3 separate regions of the Homo sapiens genome follow, and all the other regions are linked to region 2. The links come from fine-mapping of genetic effects on gene expression. A gene starts in region 2. Each other region holds a variant in brackets. All regions are shown on one strand. Distances are between the middles of the regions.

What was found. PIP is the estimated chance that this variant, and not a neighbour inherited with it, causes the effect.
Region 1: its variant is fine-mapped to the expression of D2HGDH in whole blood (TOPMed, PIP above 0.99). The same link has a PIP of 0.9 or more in subcutaneous fat.
Region 3: its variant is fine-mapped to the expression of D2HGDH in whole blood (TOPMed, PIP above 0.99).

The regions. Positions count from the first base shown.
Region 1 is chr2:241,755,569-241,760,650 of GRCh38, reverse strand. It overlaps D2HGDH (D-2-hydroxyglutarate dehydrogenase), which reads right to left. Exons shown (of 10, transcript NM_152783.5): 9 at 4,637-4,802. Among named protein-coding and RNA genes, the nearest start is that of GAL3ST2, 19 kb to the left of the region's middle. The variant G/C (reference allele first, on the strand shown) is at 2,068.
Region 2 is chr2:241,731,870-241,736,947 of GRCh38, reverse strand. D2HGDH (D-2-hydroxyglutarate dehydrogenase) reads right to left here and starts at 2,318. Exons shown (of 10, transcript NM_152783.5): 1 at 2,253-2,318; 2 at 1,432-1,815. The coding sequence starts at 1,723. RefSeq lists an enhancer at 1,252-1,491 and silencers at 1,532-1,641, 1,652-2,701, 2,742-2,791.
Region 3 is chr2:241,767,321-241,772,405 of GRCh38, reverse strand. D2HGDH (D-2-hydroxyglutarate dehydrogenase) reads right to left here. Exons shown (of 10, transcript NM_152783.5): 10 at 3,595-4,696. The coding sequence ends at 4,437. Among named protein-coding and RNA genes, the nearest start is that of GAL3ST2, 7.0 kb to the left of the region's middle. RefSeq lists an enhancer at 731-1,643. The variant T/C (reference allele first, on the strand shown) is at 2,458.

The sequences.
Region 1 (5,082 bases), 24 kb before region 2:
CCCACACTGTGGCAAAGGACTTCGACTGATTGGGTAAGGCCCACCCACACTGTGGCGAAGGACTTCGACTGATTGGGCAAGGCCCACCCACGCTGTGTCAAAGGCCTTTGACTGATTGGGTAAGGCCCACCCACGCTGTGGCAAAGGCCTTTGACTGGGTAAGGCCCACCCACGCTGTGGCAAAAAGCCTTCAACTGATTGCGTAAGGCCCACCCACGCTGTGGCAAAAAGCCTTCGACTGATTGGGTAAGGCCCACCCACGCTGTGGCAAAGGCCTTCGACTGATTGGGTAAGGCCCACCCACACTGTAGCAAAGGCCTTCGACTGATTGGGTAAGGCCCACCCACGCTGTGGCGAAGTCCTTCGACTGATTGGGTAAGGCCCACCCACACTGTAGCAAAGGCCTTCGACTGATTGGGTAAGGCCCACCCACGCTGTGGCGAAGTCCTTCGACTGATTGGGTAAGGCCCACCCACACTGTAGCAAAGGCCTTCGACTGATTGGGTAAGGCCCACCCACGCTGTGGCGAAGTCCTTCGACTGATTGGGTAAGGCCCACCCATGCTGTGGCGAAGGCCTTCGACTGGGTAAGGCCCACCCACGCTGTGGCGAAGTCCTTCGACTGATTGGGTAAGGCCCACCCACACTGTGGTGGGAGATCTCCTGTACTCAACGTCTACTGATTTAAATGTTAATCACACATAAAAAATATCTTCACAGAAACATCCAAACTGGAGTTTGACCAAACGAGGGTACCAGGGCCCAGACAAGTGGACGCAGAGAATTCACCATCACACATTATTTGGGAGGAAGATAGTGACTCTGATTAACCTCAAACCCAGAGGGCTAGAAATGTCCACTGTGGTGCCAGGGCGACCACCAACAGTTAGTAAACGGCAAAAAGCTAAATGACAAAGAACATAAACCAGAAGAGCAAAAAACAGAGGAAAAAATAGACAAGAAGTGAGAGACAAAGAGCAGGGTGAAGTAGACAAATCCAAACAGTGGGCCACAGCACGTGCTCAGCAGCCAAACGCTCTCATTCAAGACGGCAAACAAGTACGCAAGAAACCTGTCCGGGGGCGTCCACAAGAAACACATCTAAATCACTAAGGATGGAAAAGCTGAAGCTAACCGGAGGAAAAACAACACATCAGGCAAACACTAAATAAAAGAAAGTTAGCATCACTGTGTAATAAACAAAGCAGACACCAAGGCAGCGGGCAATGCTGGAGATAAAGAGCGAGTCCATCGCGTTAGGAGATTCAGTTTCCCAAAACAAAGAGACGAACCTCATGTCCTATGCCCCTAAGAACACGTCTCCAGAACTGGCAAAGCTACAGGAGGAACAGATTAGTCTGTTGTCAGCAGATTTCTAACACCTCCCTCAGGGAGTGGCAGGTCAGCAGGATGTAGAATGAACACGCGACGTATACTTCTATCTGATGGATCTGTACAAACACTGATTCCAGCAACTGCAGAGAGCACATTCTTTTCAAGCACTCCACAGTTACGAAGGCTGATCATAAGCTGCCACTGATCAAGTTTCAAAAATCTGATCTGATAAGGACGAAGTTTCCTGGGTATAATGCAATAAAAAAGAAATCAATAATTTTTAAAATAACTAGAAAACCACCACGTTTGGAAATTAAGAAACACACTTCTGCATAACTCATCGGTCAAAGAAGGAATGATAATGCAAGCAGCAAATAATGCCAGGCACAGTACCTCACGCCTGTAATCTCTGGCTTTGAGAGGCCAAGGAGGGAGCATTTGCTTGAGGCCCCGGAGTTCAAGACCGGTCCGGCCACACAACTGGCTCTACATGAGTCTGGCTCTACACACACACACACACACACACACACACACACACACACACACATATATTGTGGGGCGGGGGGCGGTATAGATCAGATGTCACTGTGTTGCCCAGGCTGGTCTAGAACTACTGGACTCCAGTGATCCTTCCAGCCTTGGCTTCCTGAAGTACTGAGATTATAGGCGTGAACCACTGCACCGGGCCTACAAAAAAATTTTTTTTTAGTTAGCCAGGCCTGCTGGTGTGTGT[G/C]AGGTGGCGGGCCTGCTTGATCCCAGAAGGTCGAGGCTGTGGTGAGCCACTGCACTCCAGCCTGGGTGACAGCGAGACCCTGTCCCCACCAAAAAAAAGGGTGTGGGGGCATCCCACAAATGCTACATAAAAAGACAACAAAAGAATATTCGAACAACTTTATGCCAATATGGGAAAAAATTAGCAATACCAATCTAGAAGAAAGGAAAGCTTGAAAGTCCTAAAGCTATTGAAGAAGCTGAGCTATAATTTTAAAATACTCCCTCAAAAAAACCTCCAGGCCCAAACAGCTCCACTGGCAAGTTCTGCATAATATTCATGTTATGATTTTGATACCAAAATCCAGCATGGACAGAAGAAAGGAACAGCGTGGAACAGAATCATCCACCAAGACCCCTGTCAAAATCCCACACCAAACATAAACAAACTCATCCAGCAAGATACAGAAAGGATCATGGCCACCTTGGGCCTACCCCAGAAACACAGACTCATCTGACTCCAGAGGGATCAATCAGTGTAACTTACCACACTGATTACAGGCAGACAAGCACCCGGTCACCATGACAGATGCAGGAAACACATTTTAAAAATTCAACATTCATTCTTGCTTTTTTTTTTTTTTTTGAGATGGAGTTTCACTCTTGTCACCCAGGCTGGAGTGCAATGGTGCAACCTCTGCTCACTGCAACCTCCGCCTCCTGGGTTCAAGTGATTCTCCTGCTTCAGCCTCCCGAGTAGCTGGGATTACAGGTGCCTGCCACCATGCCCAGTTAATTTTTTGTATTTTTAGTAGAGGCGAGGTTTCATCATGTTGGCCGGGCTGGTGTCGAACTCCTGACCTCAGGTGATCCACCCGCCTCAGCCTCCCAAAGTGCTGGGATTACAGGCATGAACCACTGCGCCTGGCCCATTCTTGCTTTTACAAAGTAACAGAGGGCTCATTCCATTTCTCACCAAGATGGTCTGCTTTATCTGTGGCCAAGAGAGACTGAAGTTACCTGGAGAGGAGGAAGCCTCCTCCTGGCTTGAGGTCATATTCTGAAATATTGGGGATCCCGTACCCCTCTTCTCTGGATGATGACACACTCATCATGCCCTTAACCCCTTCCCATATTCTGAAATATTGGGGCTCCCGTACCCCTCTTCTCTGGATGATGACACACTCATCATGCCCTTACCCCCTTCCCATATTCTGAAATACTGGGGCTCCCGTACCCCTCTTCTCTGGATGATGACACACTCATCATGCCCTTACCCCCTTCCCATTCAGGAGTCCTGCCTTCCTATCACAGAAGATTACCATCCATCCTATGTCAAATCCTCCAGATGTACCCCTCCACAGGCTGGGCAACTTTGGGCAAGTTACTTAAATTCTCTGAACCTGTTTACATGTGTGTAAAAGGGAAGCAACACCACCAGTCCTAAAAGCTGTTGTGCAGAGAAGTTTCTCCACATCAAGTGCTTAGAATAATGCCTGGGACAGCACGGGACCTTCGTAAGTAATACGTGTTATTGTCGTCACGTACACAACCCTAGACCCTCCTGTAACCACAGAGGTGGCACCTGAATCCCATTTACTGGCAGATGGATGGAGGCTTCAGGTCAGTGACTCCAGTGCCACCAGGCCAGGGAAGAAGCCAGAGTGAATATCTGTCAGGCCCCAAAGCCATGCTCCACACCCCCAGCACTGCCCCCACCCCTGCCCTATAAGCTGGCCTTTTAGACACCTCGCTCCAAGGCTCCAAAGAACTGACAGGAAAACAGCTGGGCACGGTGGCTCACTCCTGTAATCCCAGCACTTTGAGAGGCCGAAGTGGGCAGATCACCAGAGGTCAGGAGTTCAAGACCAGCCTGGCCAACATGGCAAAACCCTGTCTCTACTAAAAATACAAAAATTAGCCAGGCCTGGTGGTGGACGCCTGTAATCCCAGAGACTCGGGAGGCTGGGGCAGGAGAATTGCTTGAACCCAGAAGATGGAGGTTGCAGTGAGCCGAGATTGCGCCACTGCACTCCAGCCTGGGTGACAAGAGTGAAACTGCGTCTCAAAAAAAAGAACTGATAGGATTGAAACATTTTCTTCCTATGAATTAATAGCTTACACGTTAAAGCATGATTTTTCTGCAGAAAAAAGATGATCTGAACGTGGTTTTGAAATCCTCCCATCTGAAGGGGTAGAGCAGCTGGGGGCTAAGCACTGCAAAGGCCTCGGGGCCGGGCCCTGTGAGAGGAGCCCCTGAGACCCGCATCCCGGACTCCGGGGTTAAGGCTGATGCCCTCCAACCCTGCATGCCACTGAAGATCCCAGAACGTTCTGACAAGCTGAGCCATGCGCTCTGCCATTACAAGTGCACGATGGCAGTCTTTTCCAAAATACTCAAAACGAGTCATGACAACGATTAGGATTTTCCCTTCCCTGTCAGACACCGTGGTCCTGCCAGTGTCTACGGGAGATATGCTAAGCCAGAGACCATGGTCAAACTGCCCTGCCTCGAAGCCTGGCAGGGTGACGGTGACCGTGGGGCCCACCACCCAGCACACACAGGGCCGCGGCCCCGGGGCGCCGCTCACCAAGGTGGCCATAGCCCACCACGTGCTTGGCGTGCGGGCCGAGGCGGGCGCGCAGGTCAGTCACGATGTCGTAGAGCCGCTCCACAGGGAGGGAGAGGTCGTACTTGTACACGTAGCCATCCCGGCTCAGCGCCTCTGTGATCCTTTCCCTCAGGGCCCACAGCATCTAGAGGATGAGACGAGATGAGACAAGGGCTGGCTATGGGAACGACACCCGGGGACAGGGGGCACACCACACGGGGTTAGGGCAGCAGCATGTTCTGTATCTTCACCAGGTGAGGCTCCGACCCCGGACAGCAAATGCCCCAGACCAGGTGTGGCTCCAACCCCAGACAGCGAATGTCCCAGACCAGGAGGGGCTCTGACCCAGGACAGCGAATGCCCCAGACCAGGTGTGGCTCCAACCCTGGAATCAATCCCAGACAGTGAATGTCCCAGGCTCCACG
Region 2 (5,078 bases):
GGCTCATGCCTGTCATCTCAGCACTTTGGGAGGCCAATGTGAGTGGATCACCCGAAGTCAGGAGTTCGAGACCAGCGTGGTCAACATGGTGAAACCCCGTCTCTACTAAAAATACAAAAATTAGCCGGGCATGGTGGCGGGCACCTGTAATCCCAGTTACTTGGGAGGCTGAATTGCTTACACCCAGGAGGGGAAGGTCGCAGTGAGCCAAGATTGCACCATTGCACTCCAGCCTGGGCAAAAAGAGTGAGACTTCATCTCCAAAAAAAAAAAAAACGGATAAACGGTCTTTGCAGATGTAATTAAGTTGACAGTACTGAGATACGATCATCCTGGATTAGGGTGGGCCCTCAATCCAATGAGAAGTGTCTTTATAAGACAACTGGAGAAGAGTCACAGAGAAGAAAAACCTGTATGAAAAACAGAGGCAGAGACTGGAGTAATTTGGTACCTGGGGCCACCAGGAGCTAGAGCTACAAGAGGCAGGAAGGAGCCTCCTCTGGAGGCTTTGGAGGGAGCGCAGCCCTGTGATACCCTGATTTCACACTTTTGGCCTCCAGAGCTTAGAGAACAAACTTGTGGGGTTTGGTGGGGAGGGGAATTCTGTTTTGTTTTAGAGATGTAGTCTTGCTCTGTTGCCCAGGCTGGAATGCAGTGGTGAGATCATAGTCCACTAAAACTGGAACTCCTGGGCTGGAGTAACTTTTTTACTTTTTGTTTTTTCAATCCTGGGCCGGCTACTTTTATTTATTTATTTTTATTTTTAGAGGTGAGTGGGGCGGGGGTTCTGGCTATGTTGCCCAGGCTGGTCTTGAACTCCTGGCTTCAGCCTCCAGGGCAGCTGAGATTACAGGCAGAGCCACTGCGCCAGGCAAACTTGGGTTGTTGGCAGGGCGGGGTGGCTCACGCCTGTAATCCCAGCAATTTGGGAAGCCGAGGCGGACGGATCACGAGGTCAAGAGATCGAGACCATCCTGGCCAACATGGTGAAACCCTGTCTCTACTAAAAATACAAAAATTAGCGGAACGTGGTGGCGGGCGCCTGTAGTCGCAGCTACTAGGGAGGCTGAGGCAGGCAAATCGCTTGAACCCGGGAGGCAGAGGTGGCAGTGAGCCGACGTCGCGCCACTGCACTCCGGCCTGGCGACAGAGTGAAACTCCGTGACTGCACTCCAGCCTGGCGACAGAGTGAGACTCCGTCTTAAAAAAAAGAAAAAACAAAACAACAACAACAACAAAACTTGGGTTGTTCTAAGCGACTCGTTCGTGGTCATTCATTCCAGCAGCCTGTGGCGGTGCACACGCCCCTCTCAGCGCAGCCAGGGGCTGGCACCCCCATCCAGGTTGTTCTCAGCCCGCTTTGAAGCCTCCACGGGAAGGCGCAGCGGAGCAGGGACGCGGAAACGCCGCAGCTTCCCAAGCCTCACCCACCTCGCAGCGTCCGCAACCAGTCCACGTTGGGAGCCTGCAGCGCTTCCGGGTCCGTGACGACCCCGCCGGGCACGATGCGCTCAAAGGCGGCCAGGTCCTGCTTAGACACCGTGGAGAACGGCAAGCGCCGCACGGGGTAGCGCTCCCGGGTCAGCGGCACCTCGGGGGTCCCCGGGGCGGAGCAGCAGCCTCTGCGGGCCAGGGGGCCAACCGGCCGACCCCAAGAACCCGCGGCTCCCGGAGCACCCCGCAACAGCCACGCGGGCCACGCCAGAGGCCGACGGGGCAGCATCGCCGCCGGGACGGAGACCTCGGGCTCCTCCTTGGTGGGGGGCCGGTACTCAGGGCCCGGAGGGGAAGGGCAGGGAGCCGCTGGCTGCGCGCCTGGAAGTGGCCAAGGGTAATTTCATGTTTTATGCACGTTGTACAAATTGAAACACGCTTGCAGAAGCAGGGAGGGGGCAGGAGGGCAGCGAAGGGAAGGCTCCGAGCACCCGGGCCCTCCCCCTGCCCGGGCCGCAACCCCGCGAGCGCGCGAAGCCCCACGCAGCAGGCCTGGACTTAGCGACGCGCAGGCTCGGGGCGGCCTCGCCGGGACCTTGCCCAGGACCCCGTTCCTCCGAGCTCGCCCCCCGAGGGGATCCCGCGGACGCGCGCGCGTGTTCCACGCGGTCACGTGACGAGCTGCAGCGCCGTCCCCCTCCCCCCACAGGCACCGACTGGCTGACGGCGCCCGAGATCGCGCCCCGCCACCCCGACCCGCGGCTGAACCGCAGACCGGGACCCTCAGCCCAGCGCTCCGCGCGGCCGCGCGCACGCACCCACGATCACGTCCCGAGCTCCAACCCGCAGCGCCCGCCGCAGGCCCAGAGCCGCCGAGCCGGAGTGGGCGGGGCGACGCCGCGCCTGCGCATTGACGGCTCCGCCCAGCGGCCGAAGCCCCGCCCCGCGCGCCTAACGGGCCCCGCCCCGCCTGCCCTCCAGGCCCAGCCCTGCGCGCCTACAGTCCCCGCCCCGCCGTCCAAGCCCCGCCCCGACTGGCACCGGAGGCTCGACGGCCACCGCCTCGTCCTGCGTTTCCTGAGGGCCTCCGGCGCGCCGGCTGTCGGGCGCATCCCTCCAGGTAGAGAAGGGACTAGGCTGAGCGCAGCCCAAGACGCCCAAGCAGCAGCTGGAGGGTTCTCCAGAACGAGGCCCGGGACGTGGGCTCGGCCGAGGGACCTGGGGGCCGGCCCGCTCCTCCGAGGCCGAGCCCAGGGGGCGCCCCTTTCCCCAGCGGCCTCCCCAGCTCCTGCACGGACCACCCCTCCTGGGTCCCCAGCCTTAGCTTAGGGGGCAGCTGCCTCCTGCAGGTGTTTTCTTGCCTCCCTGTCCCTTCTGCCTGTTCAGCCCTCCGTGCCCTCAAACCCTTTGCACACCTGGGGAGCTCCTGCCCTCCTGACGCAGTAACTGCTGTCCCGAGGAGCCTCCCGGCCTGGGATCCCCTGCCTGAGGCATCGCCAGCACTTGTTTTGTGTTTTTTTGAGACAGGGTCTAGCTCTGTTGCCCAGGCTGGAGTTCTGGGGTTGATCTCAGCTCACTGCAACCTCTGCCTCCCGAGCTCAAACCATCCTCCCACCTCGGCCACCCAAGTAGCTGGGACTACGGGCGTGCACCACCACACCCGGCTAATTTTTTGTTGTTGTTGTATTTTTGTAGAGATGAGGTCTCATGTGCTGCCCAGGCTGGTCTCGAACTCCTGGACTCAAGCGATCCGCCCGCGTCGGCCTCCCAAAGCACTTGTTACTTCAGCTCACCCAATTCCATAGAACCCTAGCGGGTGCAGAGGATGCCAATCTCTGAGCAGATGAGGGCAGAGAGCAGGAGACCACACTTGGCCCGAGGCAGGACTGCGGAGCTGTGCAAGAGGTGGAGGCTACGCCCGTGACAGCAGATGGGTCCTGGTAGTCACACAGAAAACCGGCGAGCTGGATTTGTCCTGGTGATGAGGCTCTGGAGCAGCAGTTGCAAGGAGTCATTCCTGTCCTCCTTAACCACATCCCCAGAGGCCACTCACCTTCTTCCCAGGTGAATCATTCATACAACCCTGGAAAGGAGACATCCACCTGGCCCTTCCTACCTGGCTGGCCCTTGCTCTGCAGATGAGTGTGGGAGTTTGCCCATTGTCAAGGGTAACTGTTGCAATTACACATTCAGGAACTGGAAAGACGACCACAGATGAGGTCTGTGGACCCCCTTACCACCTGACCTCCACACGCCCTCCCTTTGACTAGCAGGCCAGTGGCATCTTGGACCCCTGGGATTAGGAATGATTCAAAACCCATAAAGATTACCACCCATACCATCCCCTAAAATAACTGATTTTTCTGACCAGGCACGGTGGCTCACGCCCATAATACCAGCACTTTGGGAGGCTGAGGCAGGTGGATCACCTGAGGTCAGGAGTTCGATACCAACTGTGGGCGGCAAGCCACCCAGGTGCCGAGGCAAGAGACCGAAGACACGAGCTGTTCCAGTATAATAAAATAAGAATAGTTATACCAGATATAGATCTTAGATATGATTATATATGAATATCATTAATCATTAGTTGGTAGCAATTACTCTTTATTCCAATATTATAATAATCCTCGCTCTACAATCATAACCTAGGAAAAACCAGGCCATACAGAGATAGGAGCTGAGGGGACATAGTGAGGAGTGACCAGAAGAGTGCGAGCCTTCTGTTATGCCCAGACAGGGCCACCAGAGGGCTCCTTGGTCTAGCGGTGACGCCAGCGTCTGGGAAGACACCCGTTACCTAGCGGACCGTGGTCTAGCGGTAGCGAAAAGTGTCAAGAAACACCACCCGCTACTTAGCAGACCGGAAAAGGGAGTCTCCCTTTCCCCGGGGGAGTTTAGAGACGACTGTACTCCTCCACCTCTTGTGGAGGACCTGACATCAGTCAGGCTCGCCCGCAGTTATCCGGAGGCCTAACCGTCTCCCCGTGATGCTGTGCTTCAGTGGTCACGCTCCTAGTCCGCCTTCATGTTCCATCCTGTACACCTGGCTCTGCCTTCTAGATAGCAGTAGCAAAATTAGTGAAAGTACTAAAAGTCTCTAATAAGCAGAAATAATGGCGTAAGCTGTCTCTCTGTCTCCTCTCTCTCTCTGCCTCGGCTGCCAGGCAGGGAAGGGCCCCTGTCCAGTGGACACGTGACCCACATGACCTTACCTATCATTGGAGATGGCTCACTCTCCTTATCCTGACCCTTTGTCTTGTATCCAATAAATATCAGTGCAGCCTGGCATTCGGGGCCACTACCGGTCTCCGCAACTTAATGGTAGTGGTCCCCCAGGCCCAGCTGCCTTTTCTTTTATCTCTGTCTTGTGTCTTTATTTCTGTACTCTCTCGTCTCCGCACATGGGGAGAGACCCACCGACCCTGTGGGGCTGGTCCCTACACCAACCTGGCCAACATGGTGAAACCCTGTCTCTACCAACAATACAAAAATTAGCTGGGCATGGTGGTCGGTGCCTATAATCCCAGCTACTTGGGAGACTGAGGCAAGAGAATGGCTTGAACCTGGGAGGCAGAGGTTGCAGTAAGCTGAGATCACGCCACTGCACTCCAGCCTGGCGACAGAGTGAGATTCTGTCTCAAAAA
Region 3 (5,085 bases), 35 kb before region 2:
TCTTTGATCTTTCTTATAAGTGCAGAGAAGAAAATGCTGACGTTTGCTGCCTTCCGTCTCTGCTTCGGCTACCTAAAAGGGAAGGGCCCCCTATCCTGTAATCACATGACTTACTTCACCTTGTCAATCACTGAGAAGATTCACCCTCCTTACCCTGCCCCCTTGTCTTGTATGCAATAAATATCAGTGGGCCTAGCCCTCTGGGACCACTACTGGTCCCCGCGTCTTGATGGTAGTGGTCCCCAGAGCCCAGCTGCTTTCTCTTTCTCTCTTTATCTTGTGTCTTTATTTATTACAATCCCTCATCTCCACACACAGGGAAAACACCCGCTAAGCCCCGTAGGGCTGGACCCTACACCTCCACACTGCCAGGATCCTGATGGACGTCCTCAGGGGCCTGCGGCGTCCCAGGAGCCCCAAACCCCAAACCCTTCCTCTGGGCTCTAAGTCCACAACTGTCAGACACCTCTGGGTCCCAACCACTTGCCCTTCTGCTTACAGGAAACTGGCTCCCCCAGGGGCTCTCCCAGGGGCCAGCCGTCCTGGGGGAGGGGAGGGGCGGGCACTCCACTCTCCCTGGGGCTGAGACCACCCGGCCCACCCCTTCTCCCCTCTCCCCTGCTGTACACAGGCAGCTCTGGCCCTGCCTGGGGCCCCTCCCACCACTCTCCTGGCCCCCTCCTTGGCCTCAGCTCAGGGGCCCTGGTTGTGTAACATCTTCTCAGATTGCAGCAGCTTAGAGGTCTTAATGTGACAATCACCAGCTTCTAATCCGAACACAAAGGCCGCCCCTGAGCACCCACCCCGCCCCGACGACCCTGGCTGGAGCCGCTGCAGAATTCCGTCAGAACCCGCCAGGCCGGAGCTGCTGCGGAAGGAACGGGGCCAGAACCCGCCTTCCTCCCCACACACGTGCTCCTCATTGCTCTTTCCGCGTGGCTGCAGGCCTCGTCAGAGCCTCCGGCTGGGAGGTTGGGACGGCGTGGAATTCTCTGCGCGTCTCTTACACACACCTGACCACGGACACTCAACGCCGTCACATGGCCGTTGGGGGAGCTGTCTCCGGGGCACCAAGGCTGGTGGCCTGCCTCACGCAGATTCGCCGCGTTCTCCTGCGTCGGAGTCACTCGGAGTCTGTGTTAACCCGCGGGCTGCGAGAACACGGCCTGCCTGGATGCGATCGGGTCTCATCAGATTTTCCTGCTGTCAGGTAGAGAAATCTAACAGGTTTCCGGCTTGTGAAAACTCCTGGCCTCCCAGCCACCACGCAGTGTGGGTTTTCCTCATGGCAGACAGGCAGTTCTTCGGGCCAGCTCGGGCCAGCCAGGTGTCTCACCGGCACCTGCTTTGCCTGGCTGTGTTGTATTTCACATATCTAAAGGCACAAAAGAAAAGCCTGAGGGGGATCTAAGAAGCCCCTCTCCCCATTGCTGGATAAACTGGAGGTGAACATGGCAGGGCAGGGCAGCAGCGGAGACGGCAGGACCCAGCCACGGAGCTCCAGGAACAAGTGCCCACGGCTGGCAGCAGGGCTGTCATGGGCAGGACGTGCCCGGCACTGGCCTGCTCCGGCCCAACGGTCACCGCAGCCTCCTGGAGCCGGACCCCCAGGGAAGAGCAGCCGCAGCCTCTTCCTCCTCCAACAGTCCTGGACTGTGTCCGCTTCCCCAGTCCCCAGAGGCCCAGCGGAAGGCAGTGTGGATGCAGAGGTCTTGCTCTCCCAGGGTCCAGAGGGCACTAGGGGGAGGAATTCCTCCTCCCCCCTCTGCAGGCACTACCAGCGGGTGTCCCTCAGCAGGCAAGGCCAGGCCTCTGCAGCCCCACAGCCCATGCTGAGCCCAGATCCTCACGGGAAGCCCGGGGCTCTGGGCTTTTCCCTGTCACCCGGCTGGCCTCTCCAACAACAGGAGTGAGCATTTAGACCACGACCAGGGCCGGAGGTCCTTAGGAAAGCAACGGACCCCAGCTCTGAGAATCACAAGTCCCTACCCAGGGTGGGACGTGGGGTCGTGCGGCCAGCACGGGCAGAAGCTTGAAAGCCCCCAAGTCACCCCTGGGCCAGCAGCAGCCACCCAGGGCAGGAGGGCAGGTGCACAGCCAGGGTCAGCGGGTCAGCAACTCACCCTGGCCTGCAGCCTACCCAGCACGGACCATGTGCCCAGTAGCAGAGCTAGAGGAACAAGCAGAAAAATGGCCGGCCCCCAACCAGAGGTCAGAGGGAAGGGCAGGAGCCGCCGGCTGACCTCGGGGGACGCGGGCACACGCTGTGGGGCTTCGTGTCAGGCACCCATGGGGCCTGGGGTCTGCTCTGTGCAACAGATACTGTCGGGCTGCCCATGGGTACCCAGCCTGGGATGGCAGAACAGTGGCCAGAGCCCAGGGACAGAGCCGGGCCTTGGCCAGTGAGGCAGGACAGCCCCAGGTGCCCCCAGGCACAGCAGGAAGTAGCCCAGGCAT[T/C]GGGCGGGACCCACTGGCTCTGCTGGGCCAGCATGAAAGTGCCCCTGATTTGTGCCTTCAAAGCATGCTGGATCGGCTGGACGCAGAGGCTCGGGCCTGTAATCCCAGCACTTTGGGAGGCTGAGGTGGGAGGCCGCTGGAGGCCAGGAGTTCAAGACCAGCCTGGGCAACACAGGGACACCTCATCTCTACAAAAAAAAAAATTTAAAAATTATCTGGGCATGGCCGGGTGCGGTGGCTCATGCCTGTGATCCCAGCACTTTGGGAGGCCGAGGCGGGCAGATCATGAGGTCAGGAGATCAAGACCATCCTGGCTAAGAAGGTGAAACCCCATCTCTACTAAAAATACAAAAAATTAGCCGGGCACGGTGGTGGACACCTGTAGTCCCAGTTACTCGGGAGGCTGAGGAAGGAGAATGGCGTGAACCCGGGAGGCGGAACTTGCAGTGAGCCAAGATCGCACCACTGCACTCCAGCCTGGGTGACAGAACAAGACTCTGTCTCAAAAAAAAAAAAAAAAATTATCTGGGCATGATGGCTCACACCTGTACTCCCAGCTACTCAGGAGGCTGAGGTGGGAGGATCACTTGAGCCCAGGAGGTGGAGGCTGCACTGAGCTGTGACTATACCCCTGCACTCCAGCCTGGGTGACAGAGTGAGATCCTGTCTCAAAAAAAAAAAATCATGCTGGACCAAGGCCCCCACCCATCCCCCGAGGACCTCCACCAGGAGGACGTGGCCTGTCCACACAGAGGCCCTGGCTAGGCAGGCGGGCTCTGCAGGGCAGCGGGTCAGAGGTATGTTTCCCCCTCTGAGCAGGATCCGAGGTCCTCGACACCCACAGGGACAGGAGGGGCCCGTGGATACACCTCGGTCAGGCCCAGCTGCTGAGGGCCTCCAGGGCCACCAAGGGTTATGAGTTGCCCGTTCCATGTCCAGGCCTGCCCTGTGCAGCCGGTGGGAGCTCAGCTGCCACCAGACAGTGCATGGGGACAGGAGGCACAGTGACAGTCACAGTAGTGTCAGGCCCGGCCACACTATGGCCCCAGTGGTCCAGGGGCTGTGGGAATGGGATGCACAGGCCCTTCACAATGGGCTCTGAAAGATGATTTTCCAGTAACAGAAGCAAAGAGAAGGTTGCAACCAATTCAGATTTTTACTGGACATTCATGACAGAATGAGATGTGCATCCAGCTGCATCGCCCAGCCCATCCGCTGCCCAGGGCAGCTGACGAGCAGAAACACACTCTGCAGTGGCCCTTGTCCGTGCCGGGGCCCTCGCCCGCAGCACCGCACGTTCTTTGTAGGAGCAGAACCCGAAACTCAGAGCACAGCTTGCCCTGATAACTGTCTTCCCAGCTGGCAGCCCTCTAGAAGATGTGGGAAATGACACATTCCTGTCCAGACACAAGCCACAGTCACCCCCCTCCCGAGGGCGTCCACGGCCTGAGGGACCCGGCTCCATTCAGCAGAGCCGCAGCGCTCAGGTCCTCTCGGCAACCCACGATCACGGCCCACGTGGTCCTGCCCGTGCCCCCGCTGCCCACGCCCCCTGCTGCCCACGCATGCCCCCCGCTGCCCACGCATGCCCGGGGAACGAGCAGCAAGCAGGCAGAACCACCACCCAGCGCCTGCTCCCCAGGCCGCAGCAGGCAAGATGGGGCCAGGGGCCACCACGCAAGTGAGACCCACCCCGCTTCCACGTGGGCAAAGCTGCCGCCACCCCGGCCTGTCCAGGATGGCTGCAGAGGCCCCACCTCGCCCTGCAAAGGAGGGTGCCTGCCACGCCCCCCACTCTGCCAGATGCTCCTGCCCGAGGGCCTGCGTCCGGCAGTTCCCCAGTGCGGGCTCCCAGTCCCTTCAACCAGGTGCCTGGTCCCCTGCCCACTGCCGGCTCATCCCTCAGAGCCACCGCAACACCCCCGCCCGAGAGCCACCCGCCGACCCCCAGTGGGCCTTGGCAGCAGCAGGAGTGGCCGTCAGGCCTGGCTGGGCAGCGTCTTGTAGGGGTTGAGGATGCCCTTGGGGTCCAGCAGGGCCTTGAGCTGCTGCATGAGCTGCAGGGCCCCCGGTGGCTTGCTGTAGCCCAGGACGTCCCTCTTCCTGAAGCCCACTCCGTGCTCCGCGCTGACGCTGCCCTGCTGCCCGGCCGTCCACTCGTACACGTGGGGCTCCAGGGCAGCCAGGAGCGAGGGGCTGAAGGCCTCCGCCGTCACATTGAGGTGCAGGTTACCATCTCCTGGAGGGACAAGGGCACATGGGTCAGGCTGGGCAGGGCAGCCCCCAGGACCCCACTCCTCCCCCAACAGCCCCTCCCAAGATCCCCTCCCCAGCAACCCCGAGACCCCCGGCTGAGCCTCACCCTCATGCCACTCGCCCTGGACGTGCCGACCCCTCCTCTGGGGCCGCTGCTACCTTGGCTTCTCCCTGCTTCTCTCCCCAAGTTCTCCCCCCTCTTCCTACTCCCTCAGCCCGGGGCTCCCATCTCCCCAACTTCTCCCCCCTCTTCCTACTCCCTCAGCCCGGGGCTCCCATCTCCCCAACTTCTCCCCCCTCTTCCTACTCCCTCAGCCCGGGGCTCCCATCTCCCCAACTTCTCCCCCCTCTTCCTACTCCCTCAGCCCGGGG